5 separate regions of the Homo sapiens genome follow, and regions 2, 3, 4 and 5 are each linked to region 1. Evidence: fine-mapped expression QTL. A gene starts in region 1. Each other region holds a variant in brackets. All regions are shown on one strand. Distances are between the middles of the regions. Region 1 holds the start of CERS3 (ceramide synthase 3). Region 2 has its middle 33 kb from the start of CERS3. Region 3 overlaps LINS1 (lines homolog 1). Region 4 has its middle 25 kb from the start of CERS3. Region 5 holds the start of LINS1 (lines homolog 1).

Region 1 (5,106 bases):
ATCCAGTAAATAAAACCATAAACTCGGGCTGTATAAGATCAATTAGATCGTTGTATTGTGTGTTGAGGTGTTTCCAGGAGAAAGAAGAATCTACCTGCATCTGATTCCAGAGAGAGCTTCTCTGTGTTCCCCTCTGCTATCTCTCTGCTATGATCTGCAGTTTCTCTGGATTCAAACATAGAGATAGATTGCCAAAACACCATTCTTGATGCCAGCTGGCCTACTTGATGAACTTGACTGCAGGCTTTTTGCCAAAACATAAGTCAATCGTTTTTGTCCCAAATCCATCCTTATAAAGGTGTACACCTGCAGGTCAATCTTTGCATCGCATCCCATAAATTCGTGTTGGGGAGGGCTTGGAAAGTCCAAGCTTCTTGTGTGGATGGCTTGGGGCCCAAGATAAATGAACAGTTGCCACGATACACTCCGTGCTCTGTGAGCGGAGGGAGCTCCCTTGGAGCCAGCCCAGCACCCTCCTCCCATGAGCACTCTGCCAGCTCCTGGCAGTGCTTCTGCTGTGGTGTGGAGGCCAGGGAAAACCTACATAAACTGTGTGTGTGTGTGTGTGTGTGTGTGTGTGTGTGTAAAAACAACTTTCCTGGCCTACCACAACAAACTGACTTTTGAAAAAGAAGTATCTGATGTTCTTGCTTTTTGCTTGATTTTACTATGCTTTGGGGGACTTTTGGCATAGGACATTCATTACTTTAAGAGGCTGTTTGAAAGCTGGATCAGCTCCACAAAGAAAGATAATCACAAAGTGATTTCCCAAGAAAGTACACTAGGATATAAGGAACAAGTACCAGTGGAAAGGCAACTCCCTGAGGGCAGGGACTTGTCTGCTTTGTTCACTGGTGATACCCCCAATCCTAGAACAGGATCCAACATGTCAAGAGCATGAAGAAATCACTGCAAAATGGGGAAATGAATACTGTTTACCAAGGGCCTACCCTCTGTCAGGTCCTATGGAAGGCATTTGACATACCCTGCCTTTTTATGTCTTATAATAAACAACCTCGTTTGATGGATGTTATAATAATTATTTTATAAATAAGGAAACTGAGATTTGAAGAATTGCACTGAGGCCAGGTGTGGTGGGTTATGCCTGGAATCCTAGTACATTGGGAGGCTGAGGTGGGCAGATCACTTGAGGCCAGGAGATCGAGACTAGACTGACCAACATGGCGAAACCCCCATCTCTACTAAAACTACAAAAAAATTAGCTAGGTGTGGTGTCACATGCCTATACTCCCAGCTACTTGGGAGGCTGAGGCACGAGAATCGCTTGAACCCAGGAGGCAGAGGTTTCAGAGAGCCAAGATCATGCCACTGCACTGCAGCCTCAGTGACAGAGCAAGACTCCATCTCAAAAAAATAAAAAAGGAATTTCAGTGACTTGCCAGGGTCATAGTTAGTAAGCAGGATGCAGGAATTTGAATTTTGATCTGTCTTTCTAGTCAATGTTCTGTCCACCACACCAAGCCTTCCTCCAACAGCAGAAGCAGGTGATAGATTGATTGATTGATTTTGGCCTTTTGTTATAAGACACCAAATTCGAGTATTTGAATATTATCATAGCTTCAGGAATCCCTCCACACAAGGACCCTGTAGGGGGTTAATGGAATAGAATGGGAATATAGAATGAGCTGAAATCATATATCTTAGTGTGCAGAAATGCAATAAAGCTGTGGCTTTCTCACATCCCTACTGTACCACTGTAAATCTCACTAAGCCTCAATTCCTCGTCTGAAAGTGGCGTATCATGAGCCCTAAAGGGGAAAATGCACGTACACACAGCAAGGACTTAGTAAATGTAGATTATTATTAGCCCAGAATGATCTTCAAACTTATGTAAATCAATTTGATTGATATTTTAGAAAAAGGCAGAAATATTGTGAATGAGAGGGCCACATAATTATTACCTTTTTGAACATATACATATTTTCTCTTTAAAGAACTTTTTATCCAGAAATTCTACTGAAGAAATTATAAATGGAAACCCCTTTTAAGAAAAACAAAAGGCTTGTAGGGGGGAAGGCAATGAAAATGTGAAGTTTAAAGTCAAACACTCACTTAAGGTAGAGAAGGCACTTGAACATTGTGGGTTAATGAATAAATTAAAATTCATTATCTGGTCAGCCCTAAAGCTTTATTTCCCTTGTTTTGTGTAAAGGTTTCAAAAAAATAAAAATGCTTAACAGAACATTCTTGCTAAACATTTGCTTGGATCAGAAAAAGTAGTTTGATTTTGTTTCACTTTTCTGCATGAGACTGGCAGCCTTAGAACCGAACAGCTAATTTCTCCTGGCATGACATTGAGCACTACATCTCTCAAGACAGAAGCAGCTTAGGAAGGCCTGCCACTGTGGGGTGAGCAAGTCCCACCTTGTTCTCAGCTTAAGGCACTCTGGGATGGTCTGAAATGGCCTTTGCCACCTGGCAAAGATCTGTGCTGACCCCTTTCATTCCACCTGGATTCAGGGCTTTCCTGATAAACCAAGCTATGCTGAGCATTCAGCCGTGTGTGATTTCACTGCCCAGACCTTTCTTCCTAACCCTCAATGAATCAGTTTAAACTCGCCCGAGAGCAATGCAGGTCAGGAGTGGAAGTTTGGACTCGAAATTTACCCTCTACTACTAAACACTTCCAAGCAAAACTCTACAAAGCAAAGGGCCCCAAGTCTGTCTTTTCTGTATTTCTCCCAAACATCAGACCAAAAATGAACATTTCTTCATTTGTCCGCCTCTCCCCCAATCTCCATCTCCTCTCCCTCTCTGTTACGCACCCAGGCACACATACACACACAAGCTCACACGCGGAATCACGGCCACCTTGGTTTTGAAAGTCCTCAAATACTAACCACATCCATGGGATGGCGCCTACCTTTCTGAAATGTCAGTCCACAAAAGGTGCCCCTTGCTTGTGAAGTGTAGTCAGAGAGCAGCTTCCAACGTTCCAACCAGCTTCGTTCTCCTCAGAGAGCAGCACAACTCATCTCTGTGTAAGACCTGAAATTCCTTCAGAGACCCACCCTCCAAAGTTGCGAGTCAAGATTTCTGACTGAGGGCAGTCAGTGACGTGAGGCGAAGCTACTGGATGGCACCCTCAGGTTCTTCCTGATGGGATGTTGCTTCCTGTTTCACCACCTTGAGAAAAGAAAGCTGGAATTCAGTGAGACATTGAGTTACAAATGCATCAGTTGCCTCATCGTTGTTGCCTTTTGGTGCACACAGTCATCTGTCAACTGCTGAACAGGATGATCTTGCTGTTTGTATTAAAAGGAAAGGGCTTATGCGCAGAGAGAACCCCAAAACACCAGTCACAACCCTGTACTGTCCTAGGAGCTGGTTCGACAAGTATAGTACTCTCCAGAAAACAGGCAGGGCTTCTTACTAACTAAATCACCACCATGCCACAAAACTCATCCACTAAGGAGCATTGGTCCACAGGAATGTGATTTCTCTGCCCGCTTCCTAGGAATTGAGAAAACGATCAGTTTTTTGAAGCATATAACTGCCAAAAAATACAATAGTCTGGCAATCTTTTCTTCTTAGAACAGTCAGATATAATTCGCATTTTTATTTGTTTGTCTCTAAGAACAATCATCATAGACAAAGACAGACAAGCTCATTAGTATCAGGAAATAAACATTGTTGCTTGTCTCTGTGTGCTTGAACCACTACAATTTCAAAGGCAAGTGTGGATGCATTTTATAGTGTTTATTTGAGATATTGTACCTTTGAAGCCATTTTCACTTTCTCTTGCCTGAAGATGAAACAACTCTGGGCTTGGATTATTTAAAGGTGCTCTGACAAGTAGAGAGCTTCAACAAGTTGATTCCTGTATCTCTCACAAACCAAACATCAGCAGTACCGCCCACACTGAGAGCCTGATTCTCATTAGCTGTCTTCAACTGCTGAAAGACATTTTTCTTTTTTCATCAGCTAATAGATGACCGCAAATTAAAAATGGACTAGATGCAGATAAAGGGAAACACCAGTTTCAAATTCATTAAAGCTCCAAAGTTTCTCAGATTTCACTAATGAATTTAGTTCAAAGAGAGAGGATTGATAAACGCCCTTCCTTTCACTGGGTACTTCTCACTCAGGGCTTCCCGGTCTGCCTTTCTCTTCGAAGACGTTCTGTTTTTCAGTAATGGGCTCATGCATTTTTAAAACCATCTGGCAGAAGGGATGAATTTAAAGCAGACTTGGCCACTAACCGAGGTAGGCTCAGTTCAGGTCTGCCTCACCTTCTGCCAGGAGACCACTGCAGAATTGGTTTCCTGACATGAGGCTTCCATCTTCATCCAATTGTCACCTAACTCACATTCCCATTCTCATTTCTTTTTCTTCTGCTGATTAAACTCTACCAGCCACCTTCTACCTATAGGATCAAGACCAGACTCCTTGGCACAATGGCCTGCTCGCAACCTGCTGCTCCAGGACTTCCTTTTGCCCTTTCCCACTAGATTCCAGACACAACAGTGGGCAGCTTCTGGGCCCTTGCCATGAGCTGCTCTCTCGCCTCTGTGCCTAATGAAAGTCTGAATCCTGCTCAAGCTTCCCTAGCCTCGGCCCTCTCTGTTCTGTGGGTATACCTTTATTGCAACACCTACTACTCTATCACAACTTAACTGATTTTTGTATCTGCTTCCCCACTACTTTGGGAATCCTCACTGGACAAGCCTTAGATCTCTTTCTACCCCTGGAGCTCAGCTGTTCAATACTGGTCAAACAATTAGTACCCAAAATAGTGATCATCCAACACTCATTTTCACTCCGGGGATATCTCGGGAAAAGAATGTCCTGAACCCTATTTTGGACTCTCTTACTCAGAATTAAACAAGCCAAAAGAATATTGGGGAACCAGGCTGGGAACAGTGGCTCACACCTGTAATCCCAGCACTTTGGGAGGCCGAGGTGGGAGGATCCCTTGAGGTCAGGAGTTTGAGACCAGCCTGGCCAACATGGTGAAACCCTATCTCTATTAAAAATACAAAAAATGAGCTGGGCATGGTGGTGGGCGCCTGTAATCCCAGCTACTCGGGAGGCTGCGGCAGGAGAATTCCTTGAACCCAGGAGACAGAGGTTACAATGAGCCAA
Region 2 (5,105 bases), 34 kb after region 1:
TATTTTCGTCACCCATTTTCCCTTCCATGTAATCGTCAAATTGTTTATTGTACATATTAAAAATGACACACAATCAAGAGGGCATATGCTATATTCAAGCAAAGAATGCTATGTGAGCCACGCGTGGTGGCTCACGCCTGTAATGCCAGCACTTTGGGAGGCCAAGGGGGGTGGATCAATTGAGGTCAGGGGTTTGAGACCAGCCTGGCCAACACAGTGAAACCCCATTTCTACTAAAAATACAAAAAAAAAAAATACCCGGACATGGTGGTGCACGCTTGTAATCCTAGCTACTTGGGAGGCTGAGGCAGGAGAATTACTTGAACCCAGGAGGTGGAGATTGCAGTGAGCCAAGATTGCACCACTGCACTCCAGTCTGGGCAACAGAATGAGATGCCATCTCAAAAAAAAAAAAAATGCTATGCGATACAAAAATGATGTACTTGTCAATAGTCCAGTGAGTCAGGGGAACCCTTTCTCTTTATTGTGGAGAAAAATAGCACAATCAGAAAAAAAATTAAAAGATAATTTTCAGGAAAACTGACAGTTAAAAATCCAATTCTGTTTTACACAAGTAGTCTTTTGTGTTTTGCAGAAAAACAAATATCTGTTGATTTGGAGATGGACAATATATGGTCCTTAGCAAATAAAAGAAGTTTAGCTGTGGGGAAACCTGCACTTCCTCATAATTTATTGAATAGCTTAAAAAGATGTCATCAGCAATTATAAGTGTGCTTCTGGGGTGCTTACTTCACAGGCCTCAAAGGGAGAAATGAGTCTGACAGGAGGCTTGAGGCACTTAAAAAACACACAGACATTCTGATTGCCACCCCTAGAAAGTGCCTTTTTTTTTTTTTAAAGTTACAAAATATGAAATGCTTCATAAATTTACATGTCATCCTTGAGCAGGGGCCATGCTAATCTTCTCTGTATCATTCCAATTTTAGTATATGTGCTGCCAATATAAGCATAGAAAGTGCTTTTCAGATGGCCAGGCACAGTGGCTCATGCCTGTAATCCCAGCACTTTGGGAGGCCTAGGTGGGCAGATCACCTGAGGTCAGGAGTTAGAGACCAGCCTGACCAACACTAAGAAACCCTGTCTCTACTAAAAATACAAAATTAGCTGGGTGTGGTGGTGCATGCCTGTAATACCAGCTGCTTGGTAGGCAGAGGCAGGAGAATTGCTTGAACCCAGGAGGTGGAGGTTGTGGTGAGCCAGGATAGTGCCATTGCACATTTTTCAGGTAAAACCATGCTTCAACTCTACTGCCTTCAATGATTGGGTAGGCTCTACCAAACAGCAAACACCTGAGCCATTCTCACTGGAAAGAAAATCACAGGCAGATCACATTCCATATCTCAATGCTTCTAAATATCAGAGAACTGCTGGGACAGTGGTGTGTGCCTGTAATCTCAGCTACTTGGGAGGCTGAGGCAGGAGGATCCTTTGAGCCCAGGAGTTTGAGACTAGTCTGGGCAACATAGTGAGATTCCATTGCAAAAAAACAGTATGTGAAGTAAATTTAAAATAAATATCAGAGAAGTGTACTTTGAAAACAAAGCAAAAATCCTGAAAAGGAAAAACACAAGCAATCCAGGGTGTACACAAGCATGTATTGTACCCAATGCAGTAAGTAACTGGACTACAGTTCATTCCAACTACTTGGTAAGGTTCATTGTGAACTGCAAACTTAGAAAGGGATCACTGTTTGCTTTTCCTTTATCTTAAAAAAATATATAGGCCAGCTTTGCAATTAAGAGGGGATACATGGTGTTTACTGTAAAGGCTTTGATGTGAGTTCAGTTCTACCCTCTTTAAAATAACCAGAAAAACTCAGAAATGGTTTGCTAGTCTGATCTATGATCCTACTGTTAGAAAAGGCATTTTGTCAACCATAATTTTTGAATGTGCATTTTGATAAAGCAAGACAATTTTTATACTGTCATAAGTGACAATCAAGACCAATTAAAGTTTAATATTTAGGTCAAGTGTCCAAACATCTGGGCAGTCCATGTCTGCCAAGTGCAGCCCTAGTGGGTTGTGTTAAGGAAGAGGTAGGAGGTACAGCAGCAAGTCCAGCTGGTGCCCAGGGAGATATTTTGGATTTCTGGAACATTGCCTTTGGTGATTGTGTTAAAACTATTTCTGACTTGAATGGTATTGTTTTCAGCCTGTCATTTCAAAGGTGCAACCCAAAATGCCAGTATTATTTGTGTGCAGAGAATACAAATAAATTGAAAACCACCATCCTTGGTTTCTACCTCTTCCCCTCCTGTGCACACTTGAGTCCACCTAAAATTTCTCTCTTAAACATCATCAGCTACTTCCTAAGGGTCAAACCATCTGGTGGTTTCTCGGATCTCATCCCACTGTTGCTCTCAGAGATACTAAACCCCACATAAATTTTCCTTCTCAAAGCTCTATAAAACCTTTCTTAGTTTCCTCATAGAATTTTCTGTTCTCCTGCCTCAAATTTCCCTCACTTTCCTTATTCTATCCAGTACTCCCCCGACCCACCCTCACCTTTTCTCTCTCCACTCTCAG[C/G]GCAATCACACTTTCTTCTACGATTTTCATAATACTTGTACACAAATGACTCATATTTGGCTCTGTCCTTCTAATTTCCAACAGAGCATTTCTAACTCTCTGCTGGATGCCACGCTGTGCTGATAACAGTGTCAGAAGTCACTCAGGTGAGAACTGAACTTTTCTTCCTCCTAAGGCTTCCTACTTTCTTATTTCAGTAAACAGAGCAGCATCTCAGCATGCCAGTGAAACGATGGCTCTTTATTTCAGGTTGATCCTGTTCCTCCTTTTTAAATTCTTTTTTCCAGTTATACTTGCACACATTATTTAAAGACTAAGTCTTTCAGTTCTAAAAACTTTCCTTGAATTTCTTTTATACTTTCTCTTTTCCAGTCCTTTTTTCTCTTTCTGATACTTCTATTATTCAATTATTGGACCTTGGTGACCAGTTCTCACATTATATCATCTCTCTCTCTCCTATTTTCTAATTTCTTTGTCCTATTGCTGTAAAATCTAGATTTCCTCAACTTATTTTTACTACATTTCTACTTTTTCATTTTTGCTATCACATTATTAATTTATAAGAGGTATTTTTTTCCCCACTGAATATTTTTTTCTTTTTTGAGACAGGGTCTTGCTCTGCTCTGTCACCCAGGCTGGAGTGCAGTGGTGCGATTATACGATTGTAGTTCACTGTAACCTCAAACTCCTGGGTTCAAACCATCCTTCTGCCAAGCCTCTCAAGTAGCTGGGACTACTATACTCAACTATTTAGGTTTTTTTTTTGGAGAGACAGAGTCTCATGATGTCGCCCAGGCTGGTCTTAAACTCCTGGGCTCAAGTGATTCTCTTGCCTTGGCCTCCCAAAGTGCTGGAATTACAGGTGTAAGCCACCATGCCCAGCCCCTCGCTGAATATTTTTTATGTAGTATCCTTTATAATTTCTTTGAGGGTATTGATAAATTAACTTCCTCTTTGTTTAATCTGTTTCGTGTTTGTTTTGATCTCTGCCTTTTGGGTTAGAGGCTTTCCCCTAATTCCTGATGATCCTTGGCTATTCACTCACATTATATGTAAGAGTGAGCCACTTAAATGCCAGTTAGCTCTATGTACATGGTGATATTTGCCACTATGGGCTTCATAGTAGGGTGATTTGGCTGGGTAATTCATTTGGGGAACCCCAGTATCAGTGTCTTTAGATCTTTTTTCTTGGGTTTGTTAAATTCCCCAGAAAAGTCTCTTCTAGCCTCCTACTTAGAGTTAGAAGTGTTTTGGCAATAGGGTTGGGGAGAAGGCCAGGGAGGATGGTGGTTATATTTAGTATGTAAATGTTTAATTAATCCTGTTTTCAGTATGTTATTCCTATCTCCAGCTATGTCTGGTGTTCCCCAGTCCAAAGACCTGTTGTTTCACACTCTCCCGGAATTAACCTCTAATCTGCTAGGTGGTGGAGGGAGCAATGGCTAACTACATGGAATGGGGCAGAGGATCTAGAAGTAATTGTTTCCTGAATTGCTTTTCCACCCACCACCCCATGGTACAGCATGGTACTCAAGACTACAAGCTCCTGAGCCTTCAGAAGAATCCAGCTCATAAGTCAGGTTTTTCAGTTTTCCCCATTCCAGATAGGAATGTAATGTTCCTGGGTCGACTAAGTTAGTTTGAACCCGCCACTGCAAAATTGTAACTGGGACAGTGGAAGAGATCGGACTTAACCAACTCCATCTTGCTTCTTACCTCCAAGCTGTCCTTGTTCATCCCTGGGCATAGGCTGAACTAATTTTGAGAGGAATTTATAGTTTAAAACAAAGATAAGAGGCAAATCCCCTTCTTGCCTGGGGACGAGACTGCCTTTGTAGGATTAACAAATTAGTCACAAGATTAGAAATTATGGTTTAGGAGTCATGCAGCTGGAGGCTGCAAGATTCTGACCCTCCCTAAACTGCTCCTAAGTCAGGAACTATTTTGTAGACCCTGCACTTGATGGATCAGCTGGCACCACCCAGATCCATAAACTGGCTCATCTGATCTTGGTTCTTGTGGCCCCCACCCAGGAACTGACTCAGCACAAGAAGACAGCTTTAATTCCCTGATCTCTTCTCTTTCCCAACCAATCAGCACTCTTGACTCACATCCCCTTCCCACCAAATTATCCTTAAAAACTCTGATCCCTGAATGCTCGGAAAGACCGATTTGAGTTATAATAAAACTCCAGTCTCCCCTACAGCCGGCTCTGTGTGAATTACTCTTTCTTTATTGAAATTCCTGTCTTGATAAATCGGCTTCGTTTAGGGAGTGGGAAAGATGAACCCACTGGGCGGTTACGAGTTTTCAACCTACCTACCTTTGAGCTTCCAAAATTGTTTTCTCCTTTTCCATTTTGTCCGCATGTGTCTTGTTGCTTGTGATTTGGCCTCTTTCTTGTTGTTAGTGGGTGTCTGAGGGCAGAAAAGCTGATGTGAGCATTCAGCCAGGCCTGGATCCCATTCCCATTGCCCTTGCCTTCAGTGGGATTTCTGCAATAAACTCTTCCACTCTATTGTGGCAATAAACTCTAGCCACTATATTGCCACTAAAGT
Region 3 (5,106 bases), 59 kb after region 1:
TAGAACCTTCTCTCGCAGTTGCAATGCTGTTTGGCCCCAATATTGTTTGGAATCTGGAGTTTGCTGTTGAATGGGAAAGTGGGATGGTGTTGCATGCATCCAGGCTTTTGTGCTGCTGTTCTGAGCAGGGGGCCTGGTTAACATGTGATGCTCTCGTTTGGAACTGTTTGGACCCAGTGTCCTTTGGAGTCTGGGGAGGTTTGGCCTTTAAAAATCAAACTGCCGTGGAAAATGTTTTACTCGAAATTTTGGTTCACAGCCTTCACTGGATTATCTATTGCGGCAAACAAAGTAAAACTGGCGAGCTTGTATTGCTATCTCATGGCTAGGGTTCCAAGCTATTGGATCTTCGTTCGTGTATGTGTACATGTACATGTCTAGACGTGTTTATTTGTATGTACACTTATTGTTATATGTTGTGTTTACTGAACTGACTTATAAGAGTGCTCATACATTAACTAAGTCTAAGCAATTTTTAAGTTCACATGACTTAAGTATAACTTTACTAAATAAGCTGGCTTTAAACTTATTGGTAAAATAAAAACAGAAGTGCCTTCAGAACCGTCAGCATACATTTTTTGTCTGGTTTTATGTTTGTCTTTGCTAGATATTTTGGGATGTCAGTGTTTGGCATAGAAGATTATTAAACTATAAACCCAGCCAAAACAAAATGATCTTGGTTTGCATGCCTTGTTTTTTTGACAAATCAGAGAAATCTGTGAAAGGAAAATATCTTGGGCCCCCAAAATCACTAAGCTCAAGGGAAAATTCAAGCTGGGAACTGCTTAGGGCAAATCTGTGTCCCATTTTATTCAAAGTCATCCTTCTGCTCATTAAGATAAATGCATATCTGACTGCCTCCTTTAGAAAGGCTAATCAGAAACTCAAGAGAATGCAACTGTTTGTCTCTCACCTACCTGTGACCTGGAAGCCCCCTCCCAGCTTAAGAGTTGTCCCACCTTTCTGGACTGAACCAATGTTCATTTTACATATCTTGATTGATGTCTCATGCCTCCCTTGTTAAAACTGAAAGAACAGAGCACAGTGAATGGGATAAGTGTTTTAAGTAAACTTTTTGTGTAAATTAAATGCTTTGAGCTATTTTTGATGCTCATTTAATATCTGGGTCATTTCCAATAAAGAAAGGATTGTGATATGGGGAAGTATGTTTCTAAATTGTGGAACTGTTCTTATTTATAAATGCCCACATCTTATGGTTCAGGATTTCTTGCTTTTTGGGGTTTCACACAAGTTTTAGGTTACTAAGAATTCTAGTTAACACATAATTCTGTAAACAAAATGTGCCAAAAAGTTTATATTACTAGTGAGAAAAATAATAATTTTGTCTAATTCAGAAGTTATCTAAAAGTTAGTTCAGATACAGATTTGAAAAGGTTATTTATGAAATACCATAGTAAGAAACCAGTAAGTAGCGGATAAACATGTGGAAAAAATTTATATAATAAAATATTATTTAAAACCTGACAGAGAATTGGAGACATTTGGCTAATTAATGTTTTCAGTTAAAGCTCTTAGTCTTGATTAAAATAAAGTAAGTATTGTAAAGAAATGTGGCCGGGTGCGGTGGCTCATGCCTGTAATCCCAGCAACTTGGGAGCCAAGGCGGGCAGATCACGAGGTCAGGAGATCGAGACCATCCTGGCCAAAATGGTAAAACCCTGTCTCTACTAAAAATACAAAAATTAGCTGGGCATGGTGGCCTGCGCCTGTACTCCCAGCCACTTGGGAGGCTGAGGCAGCAGAATCGCTTGAGCCCAGGAGGCAGAGGTTGCAGTGAGCCAAGATCACACCACTGTACTCCAGCCTGGCAATAGAGGGAGACTCTGTCTTAAAAAAAAAAAAAAAAAAAAAAAAACATTAGCAGTTTGGCAATTCTTTAATATAGTTAAGCCTGAAGCCGGATTTAGTGTGGAGCCAAATTTCACATACATGCTTGCATTGCTTCACACTATGTCTACTGTTTTGCATGGATAGTGCCGGCACTGAAGTACTTATATAGGTCATGTGCCTAGAGTGAATTTCTTGATTGCACAGGATGTATAATGATATTGGTGAACTTAAGGAAACTGAATTGTGTAATAGTAATAAAATATTCATTATGTGGGTTTTTTGGGGCCCTGGGTAACACTGTAGCCTCCAGGATAGACTCAGTGGGAAAATTTAGGGTTGGTTTTCTGTTTGTTTGTGCTTCCAGTTTTCATTCATTTGCTGTTTATTCTCCTCTGGGCTTTGCTCGTGTATGCATATATATAAAACCATGATTTTTTTAAGTTCCTAAGTGGAAGGCTTTTATTTGGTTCTGTGGATATTCTGTTTCCTA[T/C]GTGTTTTTAGAAAGTCATCATTTGTCCCATTTATCCAGAATTCCTAGGCTACCTTTGTTGGGCCTGCAGGAATTAATGGAGCACACCAGCTTTTTAATCTTAAACTAACTTCTTTGGAGTTTAGGCTTCCTGATACTTTAAGTGTCTTGATTATACTTTTGTAAATAGAATTTGAGTAGTAATTCTCACTCTGCCTAATTTCTCCAAAATTTGAAGCTATTTGTGAATATTCTTAATTCATGGGAATGTGTTTGTTTGCATTACAGTTGACTAGGGTCACCAGGGCTGGTCAGGGAGAAAGAGCCCAGAAATCTGGCATGCCGGCAAAAGGGCAAGAATTTCTTAGTAGTCAGACACTGGCCTCTCTCAATTTGTGCCAAATGGTTAAATGAAAGGTAAATGTCACTGTTTATCTCCTCTATAAAGTTTTAATTAATACAAAAGGAATTCTGAGGCTGGTCTTAAGCTGTAGTGAATCTGGTGTGCTCTGTGTGTCTTCCTGTATTTTTCTGTCATAAAGAGGGGTACCCTAGGATAAAAAGCGTGTGTAGGGCCCCAAAAGCCCACTATTCAAGATGGCCCAGCCAATTGGTCAGTCATGTCCTTGGGAGCTTGACCTTGTAACTATGTGGCTGTACTTTCTCTTTTCACAATGGTGGCCTGGGTTTAGGGTTCAATTCCTGGCTCAGGGAATGAATCCTTTATCTTCTGTGTATTTATATGTGTTGTGTGTATAATATAAAAGAGTTTTAATTAACTGGTTAATAATAAGAGCTTAAATCAAATATTTTGTCAGAAAAGTAAAAAGTGTAATGCCTTTCATTTAGTTCATGTGACTTAAGTAATCTGAGAAATAAAGACAGTTTTTAAAGATTATTGGTAAAATAAAAATATCTTCACAAATGTAAACATTTGGTCTAAATTATGCAGGTCAGATATTATGTTGACTAAATGCTTTAAGGTCACAAACTGCTTCTTTGACTTTTAAAAATTGCTTAATTTATTCTGGAGCATTAGATTCTAGATAAGTCTTGGGGACATGTGAAATTAGCCATGCCCTCTAGCTATGCAAACAAGGTTTTATATAAGAAAGGATCTTGTATGATAAATTCTTGTCCTAAAGTAAAATAACTGCTTGTTTAAAAGAGGGGTGTTTAGGACAAGTCAGAAAGTCCAAGCATGTGATAGATGGTCTGTGTAAGTCATGAAATAATTTATGAAAAAGAATTTATGCAAGAAATGTTGTACAATTTAAAGGTGATTAGGCCTCCTAAATGCTTTGTAAATGCCACTGTGACTCTTAACTGTACAATTTGCCTGTTTTACAGCTAGGTAGGGCCCGGGACACATGGAGTTAGATGCTAGAAAAAGTCAGACTTTATCTGCATTTCTTTCTGGGTTCTAGGCTTCTCCACATCTAGTACTTAATTAAAACCCCAAACTTATCAAGGTTTTCACCAAAAGTAAAAGTTGCTAAGAGTTAACATTGTAACATGTAACTGAGACTACTGAAGAAACAGTTTTACATGCAAGGTGTGTAAGAAAAGTGAAAGGTGTTGTTGGTAAAAGACTATAAGAAAGCATGGGAATGTACATTTTTGCCTAATTTAAAGGGTTAAACCACAGAAATAACCAAATTTCCTTGTATAAAGCTGCTAACCCAAGTAGAACAAGAATTAAGTACCAAGAAAATACTTTTTGTCAGATTTTCATGTTAAATCAGCTGATACTGAAATTGTTTTAGATACATATTTTGAATGAACTCCACGATCTAAGTCAATTTACCTATGATAACCCATCAGTTACCAGTGCTATGCACCTAATGTGGAGAAACAACTGGTATTCAAGAGGATATAAGTCTAATATTAATTAAGCATGGACTCATGGAGGACCAGGTTGGTCACCTTGTCCTTTCTGAGTCCTTAAAGCTTTTATTATTGAAAGTTCTGCATTCCATGACTCATCATAGAAAAGATAAAATGATCCAAATTGAATATATTGGTGTGGTGGCTTATAAATTACTGAAATACTTTATAGCCAATGTTTGGGCCCATATTCCTGGGAAAATAATCAAAGCTTCAGGTACATTTGGTCACCTGATGGGCCATTTAAGGGATTTTATTCAATTATTATTTTCAATGCATGTTTTCTGGTTATATAAAAGCTCTCCCATGCAAGAGGGCTCATGTTATAAAACTAAGTCATTACGCCACAGTGTATTTTCACTAGGTACAGAAAGCTTTTTATGGTTTGCTGAGGACAATCAACCCCTTCACAAATCTAGAGCCTAAAGATTAGATCTTCTGAGAACATTGGAGAAAGATTGTCCTTGCCATCCACATTGCAGCAAAACTTTGGAACCCTGAACTTTGGGTTCATAATCTCACAACTGAGGAGGGTCCCTCCACACTCTTGGAACTGTACACCCATAGGAACCCTTAAGGTAAAGCTAACCAAGGAAGTCGCTCCCCAGAAGAACATGGCATCCTTGATGTGAACAGCTTTTCCCAAGATCACAGATCAAGACTTCTACTATTATGAGAGTCTTATCTTTGAATATTTTTTGTTTATGCGTCCAAGAACAATAGAAATGAAAAGGGGGTCTGTTGTATGCACTTATGGGGTACACTTTTATTTGTGAAGGATTTTGCAGCCAGCCTCGTATATGAATAACCTTATACTTTGACAGATAAAAGATGAAGGTCCAATGCAGGTGAGAAATTTTAATGGTACACACATTGCCTCATCATCAGTCAGAAACAGA
Region 4 (5,106 bases), 25 kb after region 1:
TGCAGGGGTGAAATAGACCTCAGTCTCCCATAGCGCTCCCAGGCTTATTAGGAAGAGGAAATTCCCGCCTAATAAATTTTGGTCAGACCGGTTGATCTCAAAAACCCTGTCTCCTGATAAGATGTTATCAATGACAATGGTGCCCGAAACTTCATTAGCAATTTTAATTTCGCCTCGGTCCTGTGGTCCTGTGATCTCACCCTGCCTCCACTTGCCTTGTGATATTCTATTACCTTCTGAAGTACTTGATGTCTGTGACCCACACCTATTCGCACACTCCCTCCCCTTTTGAAAATCCCTAATAAAAACTTGCTGGTTTTTGTGGCTTGTGGGGCATCACGGAACCTACCGACATGTGATGTCTCCCCCGGACGCTCAGCTTTAAAATTTCTCTCTTTTGTACTCTGTCCCTTTATTTCTCAAGCTGGCCGATGCTTAAGGAAAACAGAAAAGAACCTACGTGAATATCGGGGCAGGTTCCCCAGTATCTGTTCACAATTAAGGCAAGGCATTTCAGGCTTTTCCTGATGCTAATTTTCATCTCAGTATGAAATCCTGGATTACAAAACAGGCAACCTAAAAATAGGCATTTTTTAGTACATGGACTTATGGGTCTATGTACTTTTTAAAGTGTGCTCAAGAATAGTGTTTCATTTATGGTTTTATTAATAATTTTTAAAGCAGAATTTTCAACAATATTATTACTATGATTTATTTTTATAGTCAGCAAACACGAGACTTCATGCTCTTCCTTCTAGCTGCACATCTCGGTGCACAGTGTAACCTTTTTTAAAAAAAAATATGGAATGCGGCATGAATCTGGATCTTCCTTGCACAGGGGGCCATGCTAATCTCCTCTGTGTCATTCTAATTTTAGTATACCTGCCGCTGAAGTCAGCACCAGTTTCACCTTTTCACATTCACGGTAAAAATTATGGGAAACTGCATGTGAAATGTTTAGAAAATGATGGCCCTCAACTGTTAATCCCAACAGGATGGTGACTGAGACACACAGGCTGAAAATACAGCTGTCTAAAACATTTCCACATTTCATCATCTGAACATCATTTTCCACTAAGTTATTAATTGTAAAGACTTTATTCTACTGAACCTACTAATTATTCTCACCTGCTGAGTTGACCACCACGTGAAGAAAAGGTCATTAATGAAAAAGGGTGGCTATGTTCTGTTTCTGCAGTTTCACTGTGTTTTAACATTTTTTTCCTTTTATAGAGATGGGGTCTTGCTATGCTGCCCAGGCTGGTCTCAAACTCCTAGGCTCAAGCAATCCTCCTGCCTTGGCTTCCCCAAATCCTAGGATTACAGGAGTGAGCCACTGCACCCAGCTTCATGGTCTTTTAAAGCCTTAAGGTGGATGTGTCTTCATTCCACCTTTCATTCCACCTTCAAAAGCACAAAGCCATTGCCTTTTTTTTTTTTTTAATTTAGACAGGGTCTCACTCTGTCACCCAGGCTGGAGTGCAGTGGTGTGATCTCGGATCACTGCGGCCTGGACCTCCCCGGGCTCAAGTGATCCTCTCATTTCAGCCTCCCGAGTAGCTGAGACTATAGGCAAGCGCCACCATGCCCGGCTAATTTTTTTGTATTTTGTAGAGAGATGACATCTCACCATGTTTCCCAGACTGGTCTCCAACTCCTGGGCTCAAGCAATCCACCCACCTCAGCCTCCTGAAGTGCTGGGACTACAGGAACAAGCCACTGCGCCCAGCTTAGATGAAATTTTTGAATGTGACACAGGTTTTTTAAATACAGTATATTCCTCCAACAACTTCAATGTCATTGTAGATTCTTGGAATAAATTCACTCCCATATCTTCTTCTCTTTGTTTCTTCTTTTAAAGTCTCAAGTTACCAGGTAGGAAGCACTAAAGATACTGAAGATGGACCTCCCCATGATGTTTTCTTCACCCAAACTAAAAAATGCATGTGAGATGATTTTTTTAAATCCATGCAACAGACCCTTCAGATGTTGTCCCCAAGAGAAGAGATTTTTGAAAAAACAAATTGAAAAATAAAAATTATAGGCTCTGTGAAGTATGAACATTTACATCATTGCACAATTTCTGTGGATCTGCCATAATGACTTCTATATATACACACAGGCGCGCGCAT[G/GCA]CACACACACACACACACACACACAATTTGTGGTTATAATTGAACAAGTCCAGTTCAAACTTATAAACTTAAGTCTATGAGAAAAACCAAGACATCACAGTAGGAACACAACACTAAAGGATAAGATAAAATCTACAAGCAAACAATTTTCAAAACCTTCCTACAGTGTGGAATTCCAGTTGCTTAAATAATGCCAGTTACATTAATTTCAACTGTGCTCTGATCTGTTTCTATACATACAGGCACAAAGACAGAAAAGTGGAAATGTCCTTATCACGTGAAGAAGACATTGCTACTGGTCTGCTCAGGAGCAGCTCTTTGTTGCAGGCAGATTCCAGCCTTCCTGCTTCTTCCAGATGTGAGCTCCTGTCCTCAGAAATTCTTGAAGATTTCTAAACCCTTCTGCGGCACGGTCGCGGCTGTGTCCCAGTCATTCTCGGGGTAAGTTCCGAAGTTGGAGGTGTCGCCTTCGCGGGCTATCTTGGGCACGATGGGAGGCTTCAGTTTTCTCTGAGGAACAGCTTCCCAGTCCACAGAGCGGAACCACCGATGGCGTTTCACATCATTCGCCCCGTTCTTCATATTTCCTAACCACCTTGTTCTGTCAACCACGAGCAGTTTCTTAATGAGATCTTTCACATGGAAATCCAAATGTCTGGGGAAATCTATCTTGTCTGCAAGAATTTTCTGATAAATGCCAAACATGTTGTCACACACACACACACACACACACACACACACACACACACACACAAATGGAGGAAATCCCGAGAGCATCTCGAATATCAGGATGCTGAGGGCCCACCAGTCCACAGCCCTTCCGTGACCCTCGCTCTGAATGACTTCGGGGGCCAGGTACTCGGGTATTCCGCAGAGGGTCCAAGTCCTGTCTACCAGCTTCTTGGCGAACCCAAAGTCCGTGAGCTTGATGTGTCCGTCCCTATCCAGCAGGATGTTCTCCGGCTTCAAGTCCCTGTAGATGATCTCCTTAGAGTGCAGGATGGCACAGATGATCTCTGCAGAGTAGAAGAGCCCCCGGTTGCGCAGGTAGCTGAAGAGCTCACAGCCCGGAACATACTCCATGAGCCTGCAGAGGAAGCGCTAGTCATGCCCCGTCCAGCACAGCCTGATGAGAAACGGGTGGATGATTCCTTCAGGACGCAGATGAGGGACGGGTGGATGATTCCTTCCGGACGCAGATGAGGGACGGGCGGATGACTTCCTTCCGGACGCAGATGAGGGACGGGTGGATGACTTCCTTCCGGACGCAGATGAGGGACGGGTGGATGACTTCCTTCCGGACGCAGATGAGGGACGGGCGGATGACTTCCTTCCGGACGCAGATGAGGGACGGGCGGATGACTTCCTTCGGGACGCAGATGAGGGACGGGCGGATGACTTCCTTCGGGACGCAGATGAGGGACGGGCGGATGATTCCTTCCGGACGCAGATGAGGAACGGGCGGATGATTCCTTCCAGACGCAGATGAGGGACGGGCGGATGACTTCCTTCGGGACGCCGATGAGGAACGGGTGGATGATTCCTTCAGGACGCAGATGAGGGACGGGTGGATGATTCCTTCAGGACGCAGATGAGGGACGGGCGGATGACTTCCTTCCAGACGCAGATGAGGGACGGGTGGATGATTCCTTCAGGACGCAGATGAGGGACGGGTGGATGATTCCTTCCAGACGCAGATGAGGGACGGGTGGATGACTTCCTTCAGGACGCAGATGAGGAACGGGTGGATGATTCCTTCAGGACGCAGATGAGGGACGGGCGGATGACTTCCTTCCAGACGCAGATGAGGAACGGGCGGATGACTTCCTTCAGGACGCAGATGAGGGACGGGCGGATGACTTCCTTCCAGACGCAGATGAGGGATGGGTGGATGATTCCTTCAGGACGCAGATGAGGGACGGGTGGATGATTCCTTCCGGACGCAGATGAGGAACGGGCGGATGACCTCCTTCCGGACGCAGATGAGGGACGGGTGGATGATTCCTTCAGGACGCAGATGAGGGACGGGTGGATGATTCCTTCCAGACGCAGATGAGGGACGGGCAGATGACTTCCTTCCGGACGCAGATGAGGGACGGGTGGATGATTCCTTCCAGACGCAGATGAGGAACGGGCGGATGACCTCCTTCCGGACGCAGATGAGGGACGGGCGGATGATTCCTTCAGGACGCAGATGAGGGACGGGCGGATGACTTCCTTCCAGACGCAGATGAGGGACGGGCGGATGACTTCCTTCGGGACGCCGATGAGGAACGGGTGGATGATTCCTTCAGGACGCAGATGAGGGACGGGCGGATGACCTCCTTCCGGACGCAGATGAGGGACGGGCGGATGACTTCCTTCCAGACGCAGATGAGGGACGGGCGGATGACTTCCTTCCAGACGCAGATGAGGGACGGGTGGATGATTCCTTCAGGACGCAGATGAGGGACGGGTGGATGACTTCCTTCCAGACGCAGATGAGGGACGGGTGGATGATTCCTTCCAGACGCAGATGAGGGACGGGCGGATGACTTCCTTCAGGACGCAGATGAGGGACGGGCGGATGACTTCCTTCCGGACGCAGATGAGGGACGGGCGGATGACTTCCTTCCAGACGCAGATGAGGGACGGGCGGATGACTTCCTTCGGGACGCCGATGAGGAACGGGTGGATGATTCCTTCAGGATGCCGATGAGGGACGGGCGGATGACTTCCTTCCAGACGCAGATGAGGGACGGGCGGATGACTTCCTTCGGGACGCCGATGAGGAACGGGTGGATGATTCCTTCAGGACGCAGATGAGGGACGGGCGGATGACTTCCTTCCAGACGCAGATGAGGGAGGGGTGGATGATTCCTTCAGGACGCAGATGAGGGACGGGCGGATGACTTCGTTCCAGACGCAGATGAGGGACGGGCGGATGATTCCTTCCGGACGCAGATGAGGGACGGGCGGATGACTTCCTTCCAGA
Region 5 (5,106 bases), 73 kb after region 1:
ACACTGCCTGCTGCCAACTAGAGCATAACCTGCTCATTCTCTCCACCACCAAGTGCTTTATGGGCCAGGACACAGCCTCCTGGGCAGTGGTCCTTGACCTTGGAATCTGACCTTGACACTGACATCACTGGAACATTAGGAAAAACCCATGAGCCTTGGACTCCCTAGAGACCAGCTAAATCAGAATTGCTGCAGTGGTGCTGGGGCATTTTTCCAATGACAAAGTCTCTTTCTACTCAAGAAATAAACTCAATTCTGATTGAGTCAGGGTTTCATGAATCAAGCTTCATGAATACTTATCCCAAATTATTTCACTTATATGTTGTAAGATGTTCCCATTTTTGTGAGTTTTATATTATTAACTAAGTTAATGGGAAATGAAGTGTATCTGTTAAAACCTAATCAATATTAACTTGTTATAAATATTCCGCAATCTAAACTGCTTTTACATCATTGAAAAGTTATAAAAATTAGCAAATCTGATAGCACCAATTCAATAAAGCAATTTAAAATTACCTAGTAGCACATTCTGTGAAACTTTGACAATATGATGTTACTTGGCTATGATATAATCATGTACTTCAATCATTTGAAAATGGTTGTTTAACTCAAAGGCAGGATTTTTAATGAAAAACAAATGGCCAGAAATACAAAGAACTAGGAATTAGGAGACAACTCTGTTTCTAGGCTCTTCACCAACAAGTTCTTAGGCCCCCATCTCTCTACTTAACTATCATTTAGCAAATACACCATATGAATTGCATGGGTGCCGAGTCTGCTATAAGAATGAATATGTTCTCCACAACAATTTACATATTTATTCATTTCTCTCTCCCTCTTTTTCCTTCTTTTTGGGAGTTCAAAACTTCTTGACTCTATAATTAGTAAATGTTATAAAACTGAACTTGTACATTATATTTGAACTGTTAAAAAGCAAAATTTGAGGCTGGGTGCAGTGGCTCACACCTGTAATCCCAGCACTCTGGGAGGCCGAGGCGGGTGGATCACCTGAGGTCAGAGGTTCGAGACCAGCCTGGCCAACGTGGTAAAACCCCATCTCCACTAAAAATACAAAAATTAGCTGGGTGTGGTGGAGTGTGTCTGTAGTCCCAGGTACTCAGGAGGCTGGGACAGGAGAACTGCTTGAACCTGGGAGGCGGAGGTTGCAGTGAGCCAAGCTCGCACCACTGTACTCCAGCCTGGGCGACAGAGGGAGACTCCATCTCAAAAACAAAAACAAACAAAATTTGAACAAATTTAAAGATGTAAATGGCTTTTATTAGCAATTTATGAATCTGGCAGCATCTCAACTAAAAATTTAGAAACGGTGTTCTGATTAGCTGAGCAGAGGTGGGCTGAAAACGGTTGAAGAAGCAAAAAGAGAATAAAAGACAGATTGGTCATTTCAAAGTTAAACTTTCCTCACAGAGACCAAATGGAGGAGAGACTTCTTTATCATGCTGGCTCAGGTAAATCAGGCCTCCTTGACTCCTTGCTGTGTATCTTCTGGATTTTTTGACAACTGGCCCATTTCTAAGTTGTTTGATTATGTGACACCTAGCACCAGCAACTCCATTCTGATTTGGCCTGGTCTGTTGGGCCTAGTGCAGGGGTTTAATCTAAAACAATGGCTTCCTATACATTTCATTTAACAATACTAATAAAATACCGCTTTTATTTTATTTGTTTACATTGGAGTCCTGCTGTTAAGCAAAAAAAAAAAAAAAAAAAACAGGGAGAAATCATGGTAGAATCGAAAGACCGAAAGCTACTAAAAATTGATAGCATTTAATAGTCCTGAATAAGTTGTTTCTAATTATAATTCAGCTACTAATTTCAAGAAGAAATGGAAATTTAGAAAGTTGAAATTATGAAATATGATTGCTGGGAAGTATAATGGGACAAAAATTAAAAAGCTGAATCTATCTTCACTGCCACTACTGCACTTCTACTCTGGACAACTGCAACCGATCCCTTCCAAAGTGGTTGTATCCAGGCCCACCCTACACCCACTTCCTTCTGAAAAACCAATCCACTTTCCTTAGGATACAGTCCAAACTCCTAAACAAGGCTTACCAAGGCCCTTCAAGATCTGACTCTCGGCGTCTTCTCATCTCTATGCCCCACTCCCCAGTCTCATTACCAGTCATTTTCCTACCACTCTGCTTCAGCTACCCTAGCCTTCTTTCTGGCAGTTCCTGTAAACAGCAAAGCATATTCTAGCATCAGAGGCTTTGCATTTCTAATTCTCTCTGCTGGCAAAATTCTCTCCCTAGATCTTGGCATGGCTGGCTCTTTGTCATTCAGATCCCTGCTCAAATGTCACTTCCTCAGAGACCTTTCCTATCTGTCTTAGTCCGTTTCCTGTTGCTTATAAAATAATTCCTAAAACTCGGTAATTTATAAAGAAAAGTAATTTATTGTCTAGTTTTGGAGGCTGGGA[A/G]GTCTAAGACTGACGGACCACGAGACAGCACCGCAAAGTATCACGTGGCCAGGGGGCTGAGCAGGCTCACGAGTTGTCAAGTCTCTCCTTAAAAAGCCACCAGTTCTACCTCCGTGATAACCCATTAATCCATGAATAGATCAATCCACTCGTGAAGACAGAACCCTCACGGTCCAACCACCTCTTAAAGACTCTACCTCTCAGTACTGCCACATTGGGGATTAAATTTCAACATGAGTTTTGAAGGGGACAGATATTCACACCATAGCACTACCTATCTAATACAGCCCATCACGTCCTGGTCAAAATCGATTCCACCATTCTGCTTGATTTTCCTCATATAACCCATCCCTATCTGATAATTTTGTGTTTGTTTCCCCGAAATCACTATCTTGTTCACTGTTGTCTCCCCAGGGACTAGAACAGTGGCCAGTAAACACTTGCTAATGAATAAAGTGCTTAACAAACGTGTCTTGATCAGTCTATCTCGCGTTTTCCCCACGACCCCTCTCCATTCATTCACAGGAACCCGCCAACGTTGCTATCCTTTCAGGAAGGTCCTTGGATCGTCATCGCTATCCCAAAGAGAGTCCGTTCTCCCACTTCAGGCGAGGCATTGCCAGCCTGGAAGCTAACGGGGTCTCAAGGACCGACAGCCGCGCCAAGACCGGGCACTTGCGTCTGACAAGCGCTGAACAGGGGCGGAGAAACAAGGCACCCCTCTACTCGCTTCCTGGAGCCTGCCGCCCTCCCAACCTTAAGCCCTGAACCAGGCTCTCATTTGGCCGCACTCGTGCCTCCCCTGCTGCCAGCACGGCGGCCGGTCCCGGTTACCTGCCTGGGATCTGGCTCAGGCGAACTCTCTTCACACCGCCATTTGAGGGAACACAAATGCCCGCTCTGGGCCACCGTAGTTCACAGAAAGTACAAGCTGGCACCTCCTCCCGCATGCGCAGAGACCGCCTTCGGCGAATAGTGTCTCTTAGCAACGGCTTTGAGTCCCTCCGCCAGGGGCGGAGCCTCGGAAGCCACCACGGGGAAGCTGTAAGGGGAAGTGAGTGAGACCAATCGGAGACGAATCTCTGCCCCGTTCGGCACGCCTCCCTTAACTGTCGCGAATGCAAAGGCAACTTTACGGCAGGCAGAGGGTGGGGGCTGCCGGGGGTAAGGAGGAGAGAAGGAAGCAACCAACCAACCAAGTCGTCCCTACTCCCTCCACCCCCACCCATCCCGGACCTGGTTTACGGCTCCAGGCTCAGGCTCCACTGCGGGCGCTGATTGGTTGTTGAAGGCTTGGTCCCATCCCAGTGACCCCAAAGTGCTGAAGGGAGGGGGCGGGGGTGGCCCAGTGCAAAGTGCATCCCGAAAGCCCCCTGTCCGGAGACCCCACGGCTGGCACTTCGGGCCCCGTATGACCTGGGACCTCGCCGTCCCGAGACCTCCTGGGTCCCTCCGTAGCTGGAAGCCTCCGGCCCGGAGCGCGGCAGCCCCCTGCTCCGAGCCCTGGACCGGGACTGCCCCCCCACCCGAGCCAGGACTTCCTCCCTGCCTCCCTGCACCTCTGCCCCAAGGCTGCCCGGCGGCCGGGATCGCCACCTCCTGCCTTCTCGGCTGTTCGGATGTTCGCCGGGCTGGGGCCGTGAGGCACCGAGGAGGATCAGGAACACCAGGGTCCGGCCCTGCCTGGGGTATTTCTTCAATGGAGAAGTTGGTGAGTGTAGAGGAGGCTGAAAGGAGGAAGAGAAGCAGCAGCTGAGGAGACAGGTAAAGTCCTTTACTTCCCCCGAGGGGAAGAGTGCTGGCTGGGAGGGTAGGAGGGAGGAAAATCTCTGCTTTTTCTTGCCTGCCCTTGCCACTCTCCAGCCCCTTTCCTGAGCTCCCCCCTCCCCACCTCTGAGACACTACACCACTCACTGGTTTCTGTTTTTCTAGGTTTGAGCTGGCTGAAGAAGACGCGAAAGCAGGAAGAGGTCTGCCCACCTATCAGAGAAGCAGAAGGCACAGTGCCTCTGACCAGCATCGTCTGTAAAGGTAATGAGCCAGCCCTCCCCTCCCCCGTTGTTTATTCCTGGCCCCTACCTCATTAAGCAGTGGTTTATTTTCAGGGTGGTTGCCTGGGAATGCAACCTTTCCTACCCCCCCCACCCCCACCCCCAGTTTCCCAGGAAAAACAAAAACATTACCCGTGCCTGATACTTAACATTTTATAACTTCTCTACCCAGGACAGTATTTTCCCACTTTCTTTCTGTACAGTGTGTTTCTGTGTTTTTCATTATCTTTTGGTACACTGTGCCATTTACTCTGCTCTGAGGCTTTGAGACCTTTTTGTAGCTACCCTCCCTTCCTTACTCTCATAGGAATTCCTCAATTCCTTGTTAATTGCTTGTTAATTCTGAATGACTTTCCTTTTTAATTAAACCACAATTTACTGTTTTCCCCCTTACTCTTTCCTATCACCTTTCTTCTACCTGCATCAGAAAAATCTTTTGAGTTATCTAACTGACAACGATTTGGTAGAGAAAGGTAAATTATTGGCCTGAGATTTATGAGTTTCAGAAAATAGTTTGATTTTATTTCCTACTAGAAAGCCAACCTGTGTACCTTAAGAGTGTGAATGGTATGAAGACAACATTATTACCCTGAAGCACTTAGGCATAATTAA

What was found. PIP is the estimated chance that this variant, and not a neighbour inherited with it, causes the effect.
Region 2: its variant is fine-mapped to the expression of CERS3 in cerebellum (GTEx, PIP 0.97).
Region 3: its variant is fine-mapped to the expression of CERS3 in whole blood (TOPMed, PIP above 0.99).
Region 4: its variant is fine-mapped to the expression of CERS3 in activated CD8 T cells (Schmiedel 2018, PIP 0.95). The same link has a PIP of 0.9 or more in Th1 cells.
Region 5: its variant is fine-mapped to the expression of CERS3 in activated naive CD4 T cells (Schmiedel 2018, PIP 0.95).

The regions. Positions count from the first base shown.
Region 1 is chr15:100,525,929-100,531,034 of GRCh38, forward strand. It overlaps CERS3 (ceramide synthase 3), which reads right to left and starts at 3,022. Exons shown (of 12, transcript NM_001378789.1): 1 at 2,885-3,022.
Region 2 is chr15:100,559,822-100,564,926 of GRCh38, forward strand. It overlaps the pseudogene RNU6-181P. Among named protein-coding and RNA genes, the nearest start is that of CERS3, 33 kb to the left of the region's middle. The variant C/G (reference allele first, on the strand shown) is at 2,548.
Region 3 is chr15:100,585,307-100,590,412 of GRCh38, forward strand. All of the region lies in intron 1 of LINS1 (lines homolog 1), which reads right to left. Among named protein-coding and RNA genes, the nearest start is that of LINS1, 14 kb to the right of the region's middle. RefSeq lists a silencer at 3,444-3,644. The variant T/C (reference allele first, on the strand shown) is at 2,342.
Region 4 is chr15:100,551,025-100,556,130 of GRCh38, forward strand. It overlaps the pseudogene PRKXP1 and the pseudogene RNU6-322P. Among named protein-coding and RNA genes, the nearest start is that of CERS3, 25 kb to the left of the region's middle. The variant G/GCA (reference allele first, on the strand shown) is at 2,133.
Region 5 is chr15:100,598,840-100,603,945 of GRCh38, forward strand. It overlaps LINS1 (lines homolog 1), which reads right to left and starts at 3,345. Exons shown (of 7, transcript NM_001040616.3): 1 at 3,282-3,345. ASB7 (ankyrin repeat and SOCS box containing 7) reads left to right here and starts at 3,750. Exons shown (of 6, transcript NM_198243.3): 1 at 3,750-4,207; 2 at 4,376-4,474. RefSeq lists an enhancer at 3,263-3,602 and silencers at 3,773-4,032, 4,483-4,532. The variant A/G (reference allele first, on the strand shown) is at 2,444.